4 linked regions of the Homo sapiens genome follow. The protein of the gene in region 3 interacts with the protein of the main gene of each other region in a pairwise test. Each region holds a gene or a part of one and is shown on either strand. Other genes may lie near its edges.

Region 1 (4,276 bases), on a different chromosome or scaffold from region 3:
TACTGTTGTTTTCTAGAGCATGAATTCCTTGAGGGTGGGAATATTTTCTTCATCTTTTTATTGCCAGTATTTAGCTTGATGCCCATTTCCAGTGAGTGTGATATAGCACTTGTTCAATAGACGTTAATTGAGCCAATGAGTGAAAAGCCTTAGGGCTGTGCTATGTATGGTTATGATAGAGCTCTACTCTTTGTGTCACTCAAATATTAAATACTGTCATACAATGAACACTTGTGATTTCTATTTACATTTTAGAATTGTATTTTAAGCATTCTCATGTATACACTATAGTTTCTTCCACTTATGTTTCAGGAGGGCCAAACATGTGGGCTATTACCTCTGAAGAACGTACTAAGCATGACAGGCAGTTTGATAACCTCAAACCTTCAGGAGGTTACATAACAGGTTTGTATTTATAATTAGTTTTATTAGTGAATTATGGTCCTTATGTGATATCTAAGAATTAGTTTTAATTTGACTGCCATCAAATTTGTGTTAATAAACGATAAAATTCATATCAATCAGAATTCTAGAAATTAAAGAAATGCTAACTTTATTTTTCCTGGAACTGTCTTAATTTGTTGTTTTAAATTTGGGATATGGAAGATTTTTCCTGAATCCTAAATGATAGTCAAGAATTTCTGTGTAATTGTCTGGTTTCACATTTTAACATTATATCTAGAAAGTTTTCAGTTTATTTCTTAGATTCATTTCATGGAAAATCTAGACTTTTTTTTTCTGGAATCTGTTTTCCTAATGCTAGCCCTCTGTCTTTGAGGCTACACCAAGCACTGATTGTTGATGCTAGCCCTTGTTTTGCAGAAAGACCACCAGAGCCAAAATGGGATTAATTTAGGTGTGCCTTTGAAATTTTTTTCTATTAATTAAACTTTTTTCTGTGCCAAAGTAGCTTAGTGCTTTACATACAATAATAGTAACTATGAGAACAATGATATTTATTGAATTTTTACTATATACCAGATGCTATGCTAAGTGCATTATTTTATTTAACCTTTACAACAACCCTGTAAAGTAGGCACTGTTGTTGTCTATATTTACAAATAGTGAAACTGAGACTAAGAGACGTTATGTAACTGCCTAAGGTTACAAAGATGGTTAGTGTTAATCTGGGCTTTGAAACCATTTGGGCTGATTTTGGAATCCATCTACTTAACCATGTTATTTGTACTGCTATGATAGTAATTACCTTACCTGGTATCAGGATTTGATTACCCTGCTTACAGGTTAATAACTTTGTCCATTACGGGTGGAAGACCCAAGATTCCTGAGTCAGAGACAAAGAACCTTATGACTAACAGCATAACTAGCAAAATGAGCATTGGCATCTATCTTTCTGTTTCCTTTAGTGTTCCCTAAGTCCCACAGAGACAATGCAGAGAGCCCAGGAGAATAGTACACATGCTATGATTGTGTTACAGGAGAGGAACACTGAATTTGGGGAACCCACCCTTTTGTAGCAAGCAGTAAAGCAAGTTTGTCCCTTGTCTCAGTGGGAAACGTTACCGGATTCGTTAAGATTGCTCATTACAAACCCAATTCTGAGAAGTGACCCAGGCAGAGAGCAATTAGGGTCTTACATTATTGGTATACAGAGCAAGACACATAGGAGTGTGAAGAAACTCATGGAGGACTCTCTCTCCTAACACCTGGTACTTTTTATATTGAAACTCTTTTAGGGAATAGTGTTTTTAAATATAAATTTTACTAAGTGGAAGTATTTTTAAGGAAGACCCCAATTGTGGAAAAACTGAGATGAATCATCTTTCATCACTGATTAATATACAATAGAAGTGCAGATGTGACTTTTGTTTTAAAATATCTGTCTTATTAAAGTTATGTAAATAATTTTTATGTGTTTCTATTTCACTTATTCTTTAATGATTGGTATTAAAATTATAATAAATCATTAACATATACCCATTATTATTCAGAAGCATTGGAATAATTTCATTTACTAATGTGCTGCTTGGGTTTTGTTTTTATTACCTCCAGGTGATCAAGCACGTAATTTTTTCCTACAATCAGGTCTGCCGGCCCCTGTTTTAGCTGAAATATGGTAAAGTGTTTTGTAGATGAACCTAATTTTCTGATAGTATTTTGTTTTTTTGTAATATAGTGTTAACATAAAATTGTTTTTAGTTGCATTCTATTGGTTATTAAGAATATTTCTGCCAGCACTTTGGGAGTCTGAGGTAGGAGGATTGCTTGAGGCCAGGCTGGGCAACATAGTGAGAACCCTGTCTCTACAGAAAATTAAAAAAAAAATTAGCTGGGTGTGGTGGCCACACCTCTAGTCCCAGCTACTCAGGGAGGCCAAGATGGAAGGATTGCTTGAGCCCAGGAATTCAGTGCTGCAGTGAACTATGATTGTGTCACTGCACCCTAGCCTGGATGACAGAATGAGACTCTCTTTAGAAAAAAAAAAAAAAAAAAGGTATTTCTTCAGTTTTTTGGAAAATAAATTTTATTGAGCAAATTATTGAAAATAATTCAGGTTTAGTTCTCTAGGACAAATTTCTAATTTCATTAGAATTTTCTAAGGAAAGATATATACATTATCATTGAGAAAAATTTCCTTATAATTTGGCAGAATCTCAAAATCCTCTTTCTGTTATTTTGTAGTTTCATTTATTTCATAATCTATAAACCCCAAATTAGTCCTCGCTTCCCCTGCTCCTTCTTTAAAGAAACTATTCTCTATAATATCTGTTTTTTTAAAAACGTTTACAATAAGTAACAACCCCTGTCCCATCTTTCCACTTGGAATATTCTCATGCCTGGTAGAGTACGAGGCACATAGCAAGTATTCAGTAAATATTTGGACAGATGAATAAATTAAATTTAGAAGTATTATAATCTTGAATTTTTTTCTACCTAAACTGGTGGAATTCAGCCCAAAGGTCTCTAGATTCTGTTTTGACAGGCAGTGTTTTATTAGTTATTATCTCTGGTCAGTATTTCTTAAAGTGTAGGTTTTATCTTTTTGTTATTATATATTTTACATGTTAGATATTTTAAATTTAGTGATGATGTACACGTGAATGCCATATCATCATTTTTACTTTGTCAATCCCCAAAATAACGTTAGTTTTCCCACCACCACACCACATAGCAATCTACCTACCTCATGCTCCTTTTAGGGCTTTATCAGACCTAAACAAGGATGGGAAGATGGATCAGCAAGAGTTCTCCATAGCTATGAAACTCATCAAACTGAAGCTTCAAGGCCAACAGTTGCCTGTGGTTCTCCCTCCTATTATGAAGCAACCCCCTATGTTTTCTCCATTAATTTCTGCTCGTTTTGGTAAGTATGTATTAATTTAAATACCTGTATTTGCTACTTAAACTTTATCCCTAGGCATATTTGAGTATTAGAAAAGGATTTGTTAGCACAAAATGACAGTCCCCAGATTCCAAGTTAATTTTCATGTTAGAGATAATAAATATTAAATTCACTGTCACAGGTAGGGGATCCATGTGTTCTGGTTTTCTAGGGACAGTTCTGATTTATGCCTTTTGTCCTGGCATCTGGTCCAGTTAGTGTCTCCTTTTACAACTCCTAGTTGCGTGATGAATTATATGGTCTCCCTAGGTATAGCCAATCCCAAATACTATTCTTAGTTTCCTCTCTCTCTATATATATGTGAGTAATACAGAAAAAATTTTGAGCAGTTTTAAACTCACTTGAAATGGTTCGATTTGGGAGATAATTTAAAATTTTATGTAAGTTGAATTTTTTTAAAGGTTAATTAGCCAGCTAAATTTAGGGCCAAAAGTTGCAGACTTTGGGCTAATAAGTTCACGTATTCATCAGCGATAACCGGTTGGTATGTTTTCTGTTAATTTTGATCAGGCAATTTCTTATAATTATATGTGAGAAGCACTCATTTTGAATGGAACATTCAATTAGGTATGTCTATGTATCTGAAACATGTTCCTTCACTACAGATCTTAGAATATAGAATTCTAGAGCTGGTTATAGGGGTGTGTGCCTGTAGTTCTGGCTGCTTGGGAGGCTATGGGTAGGATTGCTTGAGTCCAGGAGTTTGAGGTTGTACTGTGCTATGATCGCACCTGTGAATAGCCACTTCATTCTAGTCGGGGCAACATAGTGAGACCCCCATCTCAAACAAACAACAGACTCCACAAAATTATTTCACTATTTTAGTGAATTCTAAAGATAAATACTAAATCATTGTGTGACCATATTTATAAGTATTCTGCAGTTAATAAATGAATAAAAGTCATCACTTTG
Region 2 (4,276 bases), on a different chromosome or scaffold from region 3:
CAATCAACTTCATAAGCTTGTCATTATATAGTGTGAGTTCAAGTCATTGTCAACCAATCACTCACCACTATTTTAAAAACTCCATTTTAAAAGAGGTGAATCCATCTGATAGCTGGAGTGAGAAAAGAAGGTAAGTAACAAGGTTTCCAGAATGTGCTTTAAAGAGGTTTATTTCTGCATAAGGATACTATATCTTCTGCTCACACCAATCTCACAAATTAGGTATTATCTGCATTTTATTGCCGATAAAGAACACGCTTAATAGGACATGGTTTGTTTGACCTTGAGTGGAGATCTTTAGGGGAAGTGTAGCAGAGGAGAATGTGAAGTTAAACTAACAGGGCAAATGAAAGAGATGTTGAAGTGACTGGTGATCTATATTAAGGGTAAGGGTGGGTAAAGAGGAAATTATGAAGGGACTGGACAACTGGAAAACAAGAATTGGTTGCAGAGTAGATCTTGATTTGTTCTTTGGTCTTTTCTGCCTTTGGACTATTTATTGTCTTGCACTCCTAAATTTCTCAAGTTCTGAGTTCTTGATGCCTTCTCCCCCACTTCTAACAAAGCCAAAATAACTTTCTCAGTCAATTTTCAGGATTTTTATTTCTGAGGAGATGTAGCACTGCAATGAATATGTAAGATGTGCCATGAGCCAGGCTAGGCTGTAAAGCTGCAAGGACAAGCAATGATTCATGTACTTAGATGTTTCTGGCTGGTGGGGAGGGCAGAGAGATGTGAAGGTAATTAGCCCACAGCATGGTAATTTTAGAATAAAGGCAAACAGAGGGTGCTCTGGAGCACAGAAGAGGAGCATTGTAAAAGAAGCTAGTGGGGGTGAAGAAAGGCTTCCTGGAAGATAATGATCCGTGATACCAGTCTTGAGGGATGAGTAGATAGCAATGGTGTTGGCAGCATTTCAGATGTAGGGAGAGGAGAAAGAGCACAATGTTGAGAGAGACAGGTTTCACAGTGTGAGTGTGGGAGTAGCATGAGATGAAGACAGAGAGGCAAGCAGGGTCCAGGTGGGCCATGAACACAAAAGGCATCACCAAAGGATGTAAAGCAGAGGTCATGTGGCAAGCCTTCTTTTTAAGAAAGATCTCTCTGGTCAAGGGTAGAGAAAAGTACTGCAGATATAGAAAGTTACACTTATTTTAATATAATTTGTAGCTGAATATCTTCAAGTGATTATTTTTCAAGTGTCATGATTACTATCCAGAATTAGTTCTTGATATTTATTTGGGTATTATCTTCTTTATCATCTGCCCAAATAGAGGTTTCTTATACCAGGAGTATTCAGCAAACAAGGAAGAGACAACAAATAGAAGGGCCTTCAGAATAATGAAGGGAAAAGGGTGTTGGAGAGGAACCTCTGCAGAGTCACAGTTCACAGAACAAACATAAATGGACTCTTGGACAAACAATGAGTGCTCCAATTGCACTGAAATTGAACAATGGCTCACGTTGCAAAGAAGCACAAGTGTTTTCTGTCTGTAAACTTCAGTCAGTAAAGGAAAAAAAGCTAGAAAAAATAATACCCTGAGTTTTTATAGTAAAGGTGGAGAATATTTGTCTTCCATAGATAGTTGAAATATTTAAAAAAATATATTTTCTTAATATAAGAAAATTGTAGGAGAAAACAGTTTAGAAAACTATGTGAATGCAAACTTCTCTTTTCCATTCTACTTTGAAGTTGTTTGGTTAACTAAGGACAGAGATTTAAGTTCCATTTTCGAAGTATTTAAAATCCTATTACTATTGCATTGCTTTCATTTGTTCGTTTTGAGACAAGGTCTCACTCTGTAACCCAGACTGGAGTGCAGTGGCACAATCACAGCTCACTGCAGCCTCAACCTCCTTGACTCAAGTAATCCTTCCACCTTAGCCTCCTGAGTAGCTGGGACTACAGGTGCATGCCACCATGCCCAGCTAATATTTTTTAAAGTTTGTTGTAGAGATGTTTATGTTGCCCAGGCTGGTCTCCAACTCCTGGGCTCAAGCAATTCTCTTACCTTGGCCTCCCAAAATGTTGGGATTACAGGCATGAACCACCATGTCTGGCTGCATTGTAATTTTTATGATCTACCCAGGACCAGATGAACTGAGTCATAGGCTTCAAATCTCACATTCCTTTCCAAGTTTTATATTCCAAGCTAGAATTTTTATGTGAACAAATACACTCTTATTAACTTTTATTGAACTTGATTGATTTTAGACAGGGAGAGAGCTTGTGGTCACGTTGAAGGTCACTTACAGAAGGTGCTGTGGGCACAAGGTCATCTTCTGTTCTTCCTGTCTGCATTGCTGTGTGAACCCGGACAGATTCATAAATGGAGGGTTCTTCCACTTTTCTTGGGTAGGGATGTTTTAGAACCATCAGAGTGCCTGAATGAAGATGAAAAATATATAATCGAACAGTGTTCCCAGAAGGAAGGTCCAAATGCTAACTGGATAACTGTGGCTGGATTGGAAAGTCTTTTGTTTTTTTCATGTATTCCCTCGCTCATTATCTCAACAGTTATCAAATACCAATTAGGTATAAGGCACTTAAGCTGGACACTGAGATATAAAGCATGATGGAGATGTTCCTTGGCCTCCTGGTGCTCAGAACTGGTAACAGATATGGTCGTTTAAATGAACAGGGTGATGAGACCAATGGCAGCCGTGTGAGCAAAGCATGATAATCATCCCCAGACTGCTTGAAGAACCTTTCCATGAAAGGATTCAGGACAGCTTTCATAAAGGAGGTGACATTTGATTTAGATCTTAAGTAGTAACTGGAAGTTTTCCAGGAAGGCTTTATGAAAGCCATGAGAACAAGACTAAACAAAAGCACTAGGGTAGAGGAAGATCCATTCCATTGCCCTTATTTCCTATCAATCAGTTTCCGAATAAACGTGTAACAAATTAGTGGATTTCAAAAAAGTGAGCATTCTCCCTACTCTCTGATACTACCCAATTAATGAAAGTAACCAAGCAAAGTCTTTGCATTACTAAGTGAACATGACCTGAACAAGCTGGTGCTCACAAGTGATTGCCTCCTTCCCCTTCCATCTGGAGAGGGGAGCCTCCAGGCAGAAAAAGGGCTCAGCCCAGGGGGTCCAGGCATGGGGGGCTGGGGAACTTTGTTCCAAGGGCTCAGAGCAGTTCTGAGTCTATGTTTCTGACATTTCCTTCTTGAAATCCTTCCCTCAATCAATCAGTCAATCAGAAACTAGAAACTAACTACAAAAAGAGGCAACTTAAGGGGATTTTTTTTCTTCTTGCTATGGTTTCTTGCTTTTAATTTTACTAGGGTCTTTTCTATAGCAAGCCTAAGATTGTACCAGACATGGAAGAGATGTAAAGAATTCAGCAATTCATTCAACGAATATTTACAGAGCTTTGCACTCTGCCAGGCACTTGTCTAGGTACTGGGAATGCAATAGCACACAAAGGAGTTTAAATGCTCTTATCGAGCTTATGTTCTAGGTAGAGGAGACAGAAAAAAAATTTAAAAAATATTTTATGTGTGAGAAGTGTTATGGAAAAAATGAATAGGGCATGGTAAAGGGATAGAGAATAGAAAAGGTAGGGTTGGGAGAGGGTGATATTTTACAAGGGTCATCAGGAAGGGCGTCTTTGAAAAGATTTGAAAGATCTGGAGAGTATAGAACCTGAATTAGAGTAAGAGTGAGAAAATGAAAAAGAAAAATGTCTCCTCTGTGGTTAAAAAACACCCTAATGTTAATGATAAATCTACACAAAACAGGCCGGGCACAGTGGCTCACATCTGTAATCCCAGCACTTTGGAAGGCTGAGGTGGGTGGATCATGAGGTCAGGAGATCGAGAGCATCCTGGCCAACATAGTGAAACCCCATCTCTACTAAAATACAAAATAAAAACAAAAATAAATTAGCCGAGCGTGGTGGCAGGCACCTGTAGTCTCAGCTACTCGGGAGGCTGAGGCAGGGAAATTGCTTGAACCCGGGAGGCGGGGGTTGCGGTGAGCCGAGATCGCACCACTGCACTCCAGCCTGAGTGACAGAGTGAGACTCTGTCTCAAAAAAAAAAAAAAAAAAAAAAAACTACACAAAACAAAACCTGTCTATGATACTTGAATACATACAATGTCTGACTGCAAAAACAGAACTGTGGCTTTTGATACTTGGGCCCAGATAAGGTGCTGCTGTAAAATGAAAAGCTGTTGAGAAAAGCCAGAAGAGGGTGTCTGATCTCGACCTCAGAGAAGAATGAAAGCCTCTGGCCCTTCCTCTTTCTGTCTCTCATTGGCAT
Region 3 (5,054 bases):
AAACAGTTATCAAGTGAAGCTACTCTCTAGGGTTCTATTGAAAATGTACCAAATTAGTCAATTCAGTAAACTTAGCAAAGAACAACAACAACAAAAGGAACAAGTTGGATTTTTTGGGGTGAAGATAAAATACTTTGCTGAATTTCTGACTTCCCCAGGTTTTGTGCATGTTAGGCTAAGGGGTCACAATCACCACGCAAACAAGATCGGCAAACACGTTCCTTCTTCCTCTACCTGTCTGGCCTGCAGTGATAGATCCCTGAGGGGACAAACTAAACTCTGACTGAATTAGAGGTTCCTTTAAAGGCTGTTTCCCTGTGATGAACTAAGTCTAGGGTCACTTGAGTGGGGATTAGGGGCTCTGGCAGGCTCATTAATTCTCTGAAATAGACTGGCAGGACCTGGACTAGGCAAGGAGGCTCTGACAGTGAGGGAGAGAGAGAGCCAGCTAAGAGTTTTACTACGTAAATTAACCACAGAGCAACGCCTTCCCTCTTCGGTTTGTTTCTTTCTCTCCACCAAAACGATCTTTGGTATGTCACATATAATTTGGCATTTTGGTTAACCAATTCAAGGAAGAGAGAGAATGTGGGAAGATGGAGGTGTGGGAGGATGGCCACATTCCACAAGGGACTGACTGACAAGTCTCTGGTTTCCCAAATGCAGTTGTGCAGACACTGGCAACCAAGGACCGGTGAGGGTAAGGCAGAGACTGCAGCCCACTTTTGTGTGGATCCACAGACCCTTTGGGAGCAATTTTCTTTAAACATCTTTTAATTCAACTGTCTCCCCTCTCAGGTACCTGAATCTCTCTCATCCATGGAGTGTCACCATTTTCTGAGGCTGAAAGTTCTTCCACTAGCACCGATGGGAAAACTCCAATACGCCCATTGAATTCCCCTTCCCAGAAGCCATCATCATCTTGGTTTTCTTTGTTCAAGATACGGATTATTGCTCCCTCAGGAAAAGATAACTCATCATCTGTCTGGCCCTCATAATCATAAAGTGCTTTCACAAAACATACTAGGGAGCAAGAGAAAAACAAATCTGGTAAGATAATTAACAGCCGGTTGCTTTTGCAACCACCCCTATGCTCACATGACAACTAAAAGAGCATCATACAGAATAGGATTAAAGTTGTAATTTTTTTACTCACTGATGAATGATTAACTTTAGGGTTCTACTGTGCAGGACAAACGTGACCATATAAAGAAAAGCATATTATAGGACAGGAGGAAAGTTGTGCTTTTTATCCTACTGAAGGCTTACTCCAGGGCAATACAGTTTAGGTCAAACGTGACCAAATAAAGAGTGCCTTGTTTCAGTCTTTACCACTGGCATCTCCGTTGAGGCTGCCTGAAACGAGTTCTGCTTCCGTGGAATTGCTGGACGTGTGTGACCGACTGTCCAAAGCGGCCAGGGACTGCAGCATGCTCAGGAGGCTGTTCGAGGTGGGAAACTGTAGGTACTTTTCTGGCACATAACCCACTTGGCCAACTTTATTTCGAGCCTGGGTAAAAGACATGTGACAAAACAAGTTTACACACACAATTTAGACAGGGCACAACAAAGACCAAAACAAACTCCTAAAAATGTCACAAGAAAGGGCGATATGAGCAAAGGAATATACCTTTACCCAGTCTTCCATATCTCCATCTTCAATCACTTCTAACACCTCATGTTCCTCAATGGTCAACTCATCTGGTTGAGAAGCCTGCAGTGTAGGATGGTCATGGACAAAATTAAAAAGGTTAGATAAGGAGCAGATGTGAGCTGATCATGACAAAAACTGGGGATCAAAATATTGAAATGATTTTGAGAAACATGTTGAACATAAAAATTTAAATGCTGTAAAACTTTCATAATGAGGTGAAGTTTTACTTTAAAAAACTAAACAGAATAAAACCATAACAAAAACTCAAGAAACTGAATCCTCAAGAGGCAATGACGTTCAATGAACAGAACATGTAAGCCTGGGCAACACAGCGAGACCCCCATCTCTACCAATAAATAAATAAATAAGTAAATAAATAAATAAAATTAGTCAGGCATGGTGGAACATGCCTGTAGTCCCAACTACTTGGGAGGCTGAGGTGGGAGGATCGCTTGAGCCTGGGAGGTTGAGGCTGCAGTGAGCCATGAGTGAGCCACTGCACTCCAGCCTGGGCAACAGAGCGAGACCCTGTCTCTAAAAAAACAAACAAAAAAAGAGAGCACTTCCTGGAAGTAGAGGACCTGGGTTCCAACTCCAGCTTCTGTATCAAGTTATTCAACTTGATGCCTCCATTTCTTTGAAATGACAATCCTGCCATTTTCTGGAGGATGTGAGTCAATGTGGGATGGATAAGCACAGAACTGTGATGATTTGGGAAGCAAAGGCAAACGAGAAGGCACTGAATTGGAACTGCTACCAGAGGGCTCCCATGGACAAGCATGCAGTGAAAATGCAAAGAACTATGTACGTGAATTTGATGATAGTGGGTGCAGTGCCTAGGATTGATCTGGAATCACTGTAAAGCAGTGGCCAAAAGAAAAAAATTGTAGGAAAGGAAATGATTGAGATCAGTCATGGTTTGGATTTCTTATGCTCCAACTTAACTGTGTGGAGACTGAGCTGATCCATTTGCGTGCTACCGTACAAGCTGCTAACCATAATGGTTTTATTATCCCTGACAGCAGCAATCCACCAGCATCAGCCACCCACATGTTGCCCTTGAGACTGCCAAATCTGTAAACGCTCTGAGGCTCCACAGAGGGGCTGGAAAGTCCGTGTGGCTTTGCTTCCTAACAGTCTTGCCTGTCATGTGTAATAGACAGGGGCCTGCTGGCTTCTGGCTCTCTAGAAAACAGTCTTAAAAGCTTTCCCCAAGTCCCAAGATGGGTTAAAACCATCACCTAAAACCATAAAGTTTTTAAAATCTCACAATCTCAAAATGTAAAATTAACTCCAAGTTACACAAACAAAAATAAGGCAAAAAAGGGGTCATTTTCAAGATCAATTTCCCATTTTATGAACATTAAAACATTTCATCAAAATCCAGATTCTGGATGTTGCCATAGCTCCCTGAGACAGAAAAATAATATTGAGGAAAAAACCCCACTCATTTACCCTTGATAGCTTTTCCAATGGAATTCCTTCACTACTCTGAAACCACACTATGCCTTGAATATGCCAGCAAAAGGCATTTTTGTAATAAAAATGTTTTTCATGGCAAGACCTAAAAAGTATCAACACGACCAGACGTTAATGTATGTGACAGCAAACCAGGGAGGTAGTACACTTTTAAATAAACTGCTGCCCTTATAAAAAGCTATGGAGAGGCTGAGTGAGGTGGCTCACGTCTGTAATCCCAGCACTTTGGGAGGCCAAGGTGGGTGGATCACTTGAGGCCAGCAGTTTGAGACCGGCCTGGGCAACATGGCGAAACCCTGTCTCTATGAAAAATACAAAAAATTGGTGGGTGTGGTGGCACGTGCCTGTAATCCCAGCTACTTGGGAGGCTGAGGTGGGAGGATCACTTGAATCAGGGAGGCAGAGGTTGCAGGGAGGCAGAGGTTGCAGTGAGCCGAGATCACACCACTGCACTCCAGCCTGGGTGACAGAGCAAGACCCTGTCTCAAAAAAAAAAAAAAAAAAAAAAAACAACAACAAACAAACAAAAACCATGGAGGTCCATGCAAGTTTTTCAACACTGCAGCACTAGTTGTCCAATGTAAGCAGACACTAGCTTGATCATCCCATCCTAAAGCAGTGATGACCAATTCTTCCACCTAACAAGGTCAAGTTCTTTGCATGGCTATCAAGACCCTGCAGAGTTTGGTCCCTGTGGGCCTCTTGACGCTTTGGCCCCTGCACACTATTTCTATTCTCTGAGCATACCATGTTCTTCCTTGCCTCTGTGCTTTTATAGGTGTTCTTCCGTCCATCAGGCTCTGTTCCCTCTTTCCTATCTGATGAGCAGACTTAGATTACTGTGGGTTTAAGTCCAGCTTCAGTATATTTTTATGGGCAAGTGACTGTAAGATACCTTTGAACCTCAGTTTTCTTTTTTCGTACTAGAATATAAGCTCAATGAGGGCAAAGATTTTTGTCTGTTTTGATCAATGCTATATCCCAGAGCCTAGAAAAGCCCACAGCACTGATACATGGAAGGTGCTCAAGCACTATTTGTTGAATGAATGGGGTGTTTGATAATATCTTCCTCATAGGGTTATTGAAGGGATTACAAATAAATAGATAGATAGATAGATAGATAGATAGATAGATAGATAGATAAGTAGTTACGATTACTTTTGACTTGAGACTGAGCGCATATGTTTTCCCAGACTACTCATGATGAGTAAGCTGCTCCTCCTTTTGCTCTTTTTTTTTTTTTTTTTGAGACGGAGTCTCACAGTGTTGCCCAGGCTGGAGTGCAGTGGTGCCATCTCGGCTCACTGCAACCTCTGCCTCCCAGGTTCAAGAAATTCTCCTGCCTCAGCCTCCCAAGTAGCTGGGATTACAGGTGCACACCACCATGCCTGGCTAATTTTTTGTATTTTTAGTAGAGACGGGGTTTCACCATGTTGGTCAGGCTGGTCTCGAACTCCTGACCTCGCGATTCGCCCGCCTTGGCCCCGCAACGTGCTGGGATTACAGGCGTGAGCTACCGTGCCCAGCCCCCATTTTGTTCTTAAAAGGCTCTCTGAGCGTCCCCATAACACTGACTACCATGATGCTCTAATGAGTTTGTCCTTGTGAGCTTCCTACTAGAAATAATTAGGGACTACATTTCTTCTCACTTACCCCAACTAAAGACAGTGAGCAGTAAATGGTTATTAAATACACACATACTCTCATACTGTCTCCTTAAGTCCTAGTATCCAGTGACAACCAGAGCTCCGTTTCCACCAGTATCTCTCCAAATTTCCTGTATTTCTTTTAAAACAATATGTTTTTCCTGATTATATCATACATGTTCATCGTAGAAAAGCTGGAAAATATGCATAATTGAGCTCTTACGGTACATACAATTTGGTATCCTACCTTTTAATTTAATATTAGGACATAAGGG
Region 4 (4,276 bases), on a different chromosome or scaffold from region 3:
GTAAGCCTACGGCAGGTCTTTTCCAAGGCAGGGTGCCGTGCCTGCAGCAGTACTTGGGTATTTCTTACCATTTAATGTAAGTGGTGCTAGTGCTTTTATTTTTAATGTGTCACCGACAAAGTCTGTGAGTGCTGTGCCCCTAACTCCATTTCCCCATAAACCCTGTGGTTTTCCTTGTGTGATTTTACACAGCACAGTGATTGTTAGGAGCGTATGTGTGGCGTTACAGCAGAACTGAGTGTATGTGGGAAAAGTCAGCAACAGGTAAATGCCACTGACTGTGCTGTGTGGACCACCTCATCCATCTCACAGTGGCCCCTGAGGTGGGCCACATTATATCCCCTCCAGACAGATGAGGAAGCAGGCAGATGCGATGTTTCCAAGCTCACACAGCCAGCAAGCAGCAAAGCCTGGTTCCTCCTAACCTTCACTGGCCCAGAGCAAACAGAGGACTGGGGTGGATGAGGTCCCAGGAGTGTGGGGATGCCCAGAGCTGCCTGTATTCCAGGAGCCACAGAGATTCTGGAAGCAGCTGCTATCCCTGAGGGCGGCAGAGACCTGGACCCCTCTGACTTCCTCCCGGGGTGAGGAAGCAGCCTGGGGCCACTCTCATGCTTTGTTGCAGGTTAGAGGGAACCCCCGCCTGTGGGCTGTCAGTTCTGGTCTGCTCCCTGTGGGCAGCTGTGTGAGAATGAACTCTCCTCGGCCCAGTGGCATCCAGAGCCGAGCCTCAGCAGGAATTTGAGGGAAGAAAATCTGCCAAAGAGGGCACCACTGCCCCTAAGAGGGAAGTAGAGGGCATTTCTGGGAGGCGGCCCAGCCAGAGGTTGGAGACCTAGGGCAGGGAGCCGGGGGAAACAAAGGCCTTGCCTGACCTAAGAAAACACTCGCCAAAAAGCTGGAAAGTCAGGGGCGGTGGCTCACGCCTATTATCCAGTTACGTGGGAGGCTGAGGTGGGTAACTTGCCTGAACCCAGGAGTGCAAGGCAAGCCTGGGCAACATAGTGAGACTCCATCTCTTAAAAAAAAAAAAAAAAAGCTGGAACCTCCTGTCCCTAGTGCCCTGGGCCAGTCCCTGTTCCCTCTGCGCGTCAGTCTCATCACTGTGAAAGGGGACCGGCCTGAGTGCTGCTGGGCTCCATTCATGAACCAAACATTTGCCAGGCACTGGCCAGGGGCCAGGACAGCGCCGCATCTGTGCCCTGCAATGGGGCTGGACGCCTCAGGGCTGCAACCCAAGCCTGCCCCACCCGGCCCCAGGACCCCACCCACCACATCCACGGTGCTGAACACATGGCAATAGTGGTGGCTGGTCTGCAGGTCCTTGGTGATGTAGGCAAAGGTACAGAGGTCCTCCGGGTCCTGGGCCGCACAGGAAATGTTCCGGATCTCGTGCTCTGCAATGACGTTCTGCTGGGGAAAGCCGTGTTCTGGAATTCTCAGGCTCAGGCATGCCTCTGGCACCCCCTGCCCCAGCCTGTTACCATTGTCACTGTTCTCTGTCCCAGCCTAGAGCATCAAGCAAACCCCCCTTCATCTTCTCATTTTGTTTATTGGTGGGGGTGGGGGTCCCCGATTTTGGTTTGGGGTCTCCACCCCTTACCACAACAACTAAGGCAGTAAAATGTTCACACCCAACCACAAGCTCTCCCCAGCCCCTCCCACCTTCCAGGGTGGGGGCAAAGTGGGAAGGGTGTCAGGAAGGTGGGATCCCACACGGTGGCACACAGAGAAAGTCCTTTGCTCACGGAGGGAATCACACCTGTGAGCAGGTGTGCGGCCAGTGGAGCCCAGGTGGCGAGGCTAACAGCAGTGATCACTAGGGCGGGGACGGGGCTGACAGCAGGCACCCAGGCCAGCAGATGAGAGACACGCCTCTTAGCAAAGTGGGAAGTAATAAGAGGACTGGGGACCCTCTAGGGAGATAAGAGATGAGACAGGGCAGCCGGGTTGCTTGCCCTGGAGCCCTGTGGGTCTGACGGGGATGTGGGTCCCACTCCCACCAAGAGTCCCTGTAAGCAGCACACCTTGTTGGAGGCATCGATGAACTTGACACCTTTGTATGTGATGGACAGGATGATGGTGGGGATCTTCTTCATGTGCTCCGTAGATTTCTACAGGAAACAAGGGGTGGCCCTGTCAGTGCCCCTTCTCAGGGCTAAGCCTCCTGGGCTTCCACAGGTCCCAGCTTCCTTCCCATCCTTACATAGTGCAGCAGGGCCCAGGCAACTGCAGCTACTGCCCCCATTGCTGCCTTCTGCTGGCCAGTCCCACAGCGCCCTCCAGCCCACACAGGCACCCTACCCGCATCTTGGCACAGGCGTCTTGCGTGGATTCTGTCCCTCGCAGATCTTTGATCAGCATGGAGCCCAGATACTGTGGGGGCGAGCAGTGGCCAGGCTTAGGAAATCCTGCGTTTCCATGCAGGGGTGACCCAACCAATTTGGGACTGTCCCACAATCAAGTAGTTACCCCTCTCAATAACAACACCCCCTCTCCTGCCCCAGCTGGAGAGACCCTCCATTCAACTCCCTAGCTAAAGGATCCAGAGGCCTCCACCCCTTCGCCTTAGCTGTCAAGAGTGGCTGAGAGTGGAGAACAGCTCAAAAGCCCTGGGCCTGGCTTTGTGGAGTCCCTGCTGGGACTTGGCCGCAGGTGCCTGGCCGAGAAGGAGCAGGGAGGCCGGCCCTGCTGGGAGGGTGGGAGCAACTCACATTGGCTTCATAACCACAGGACTCGAAGATGAGTTTCTCTGGCTGGTGTTGCCAACTCTGCACTGGGGCGTAGGGGGCTGCCAGGCTCGGGGGCCGCAGGGTCAGCTTGGCCTCACGGTGCTCCTCCTGCGAAACACACGCAATTGGACACCTGCTCCTTGCTCCAGAGGAGCACATGGGCTTGCTGCCTGGCTCCAGCACACTCAAGGGTGAAGATGCCAGTGACCTTAGCAAGTTCAAGGGTCGAGTGGAGATGGCAGGGGGCAGACCAGCAATTCAAACACACTGCGGGAGAGGGGAGGTGCTAGCCACAGCAGAGGCACAGCAGGGACCCAAACCGCCTGAGAGCAGGGCTTGGGAAGGACAGTCTCTGTGGTGTCCGAGATGAGTCTCAAAGGAGATGGGAAATGACCAGAGAGGAGATGGCAGAGTCTGTGTGGGGGGCACAGGCTGCCAGGCTGTTCTGCACAAAGACCAAAGGAGAGAACAGCGCCCACGAGACCCTGGGACGCCTTGGGACCCAGCCCAGGGCCTGGGAGGGATCTTCACAGCGGGGAAGCCAGTGAAGCACCCGCCCGTGCCTAGGAATGCATTCCAAATGGATCCTTCTGGCAGCAGCTAGGGGGTGGGGGAGGCCACTGCGGTCCAGGTGAGAGATCATGGGTCCCTGTCCAGGGCACTGGTGGAAGGAATGGAGAGGAAGGAAAAGATTCAGGAAACACGGAGGCCCTCCCTTCCCAGCAGTGCGCAGAGCCTCTCAACAGCAACCGGAATTGCTGGACAATGTGTTTAAAAATCCTTTAAAACTCATGGCTGTGCTTGTAGAAAGGGAAAGGAAGTCCCCAGAGCCAGAAGTGAGAAGTGAGAGTCAGAGAAACAAGCAGGGGTGAAGCTGAAGTTCACCCGGAGGGGCCTGAGGGACACCTGCTAATCCTGTGTCTGACAGGCCAAGAAGAGGACAAAGGACAAAGCCAAGGTCCGTACAAGGAGGGAGGCAGGACAGGCAGGTCCTGAGTAAATCCAGGACCCCTGGAAATGATGCCCTGAGAAGGTGAGCCAGGAGTGTGAGACGGGCCCACCTCCGCCAGGGCTGGAGCGGGCACCGGGAGCGGAGGAGGCGTCTCCAGCGGTGCCCCCCACGGGGCTGCAGGCAGAGAACAGGAAGAACAGAATCTGGTCTGGCTGTGGTTTTGCTGAGCAGGAGGAAGAGAATGCTGCCGAGGTGAAGCTGCAGGGAAAGCAGTTCTGGGGAACAACGTGGGTAAGCAGAGAAGGAAGGGGCCAAGAAGGAGCTCAGAGGCCAGGAGAGCACAGAGGGCTCTGGGGCCAGCAGGGGAGGCAGTGCAGGACGCAAGAGGCCACAGAGAAAGAGCGGACAGGGGATCTGAACCCCTGAGGGAGGGAAGTACAGGACACAGGAGTGGCCCCAGCAGCTGACAGCTAAAGTGAGTTGTGCGGCCCGAGCTCGGCACCATGGGTGCTGGGTGGGCCTTACGCAAGGCGGCTGGGTGTGGGCGAGCAGAGCAGGCTAGTGCCTCCTGACTCTGGTGCCAGCCCAACTG

What was found. Proteins that work in one complex are often made in the same cells at the same time.
Region 1: the proteins of FCHSD2 (region 3) and ITSN2 interact in a two-hybrid assay, tested with the Homo sapiens proteins (one large-scale study listed by BioGRID).
Region 2: the proteins of FCHSD2 (region 3) and DAPP1 interact in a two-hybrid assay, tested with the Homo sapiens proteins (one large-scale study listed by BioGRID and IntAct).
Region 4: the proteins of FCHSD2 (region 3) and ANKS1A interact in a two-hybrid assay, tested with the Homo sapiens proteins (one large-scale study listed by BioGRID).

The regions. Positions count from the first base shown.
Region 1 is NC_000002.12:24,311,261-24,315,536, reverse strand, and holds part of ITSN2 (intersectin-2), read left to right. Parts: intron 1-312; coding exon 313-405; intron 406-2,013; coding exon 2,014-2,077; intron 2,078-3,161; coding exon 3,162-3,325; intron 3,326-4,276.
Region 2 is NC_000004.12:99,851,327-99,855,602, reverse strand, and holds part of DAPP1 (dual adapter for phosphotyrosine and 3-phosphotyrosine and 3-phosphoinositide), read right to left. Parts: intron 2,386-4,276; coding exon 2,255-2,385; intron 1-2,254. UniProt on the Homo sapiens protein: May act as a B-cell-associated adapter that regulates B-cell antigen receptor (BCR)-signaling downstream of PI3K.
Region 3 is NC_000011.10:72,841,819-72,846,872, forward strand, and holds part of FCHSD2 (F-BAR and double SH3 domains protein 2), read right to left. Parts: intron 1,923-5,054; exon of another isoform or gene 1,715-1,922; coding exon 1,631-1,714; exon of another isoform or gene 1,511-1,630; coding exon 1,333-1,510; exon of another isoform or gene 1,024-1,332; coding exon 803-1,023; coding exon of another isoform or gene 799-802; intron 1-798. UniProt on the Homo sapiens protein: Adapter protein that plays a role in endocytosis via clathrin-coated pits. Contributes to the internalization of cell surface receptors, such as integrin ITGB1 and transferrin receptor.
Region 4 is NC_000006.12:35,081,255-35,085,530, reverse strand, and holds part of ANKS1A (ankyrin repeat and SAM domain-containing protein 1A), read right to left. Parts: intron 2,841-4,276; coding exon 2,715-2,840; intron 2,377-2,714; coding exon 2,305-2,376; intron 2,115-2,304; coding exon 2,028-2,114; intron 1,414-2,027; coding exon of another isoform or gene 1,411-1,413; coding exon 1,273-1,410; intron 1-1,272. UniProt on the Homo sapiens protein: Regulator of different signaling pathways. Regulates EPHA8 receptor tyrosine kinase signaling to control cell migration and neurite retraction.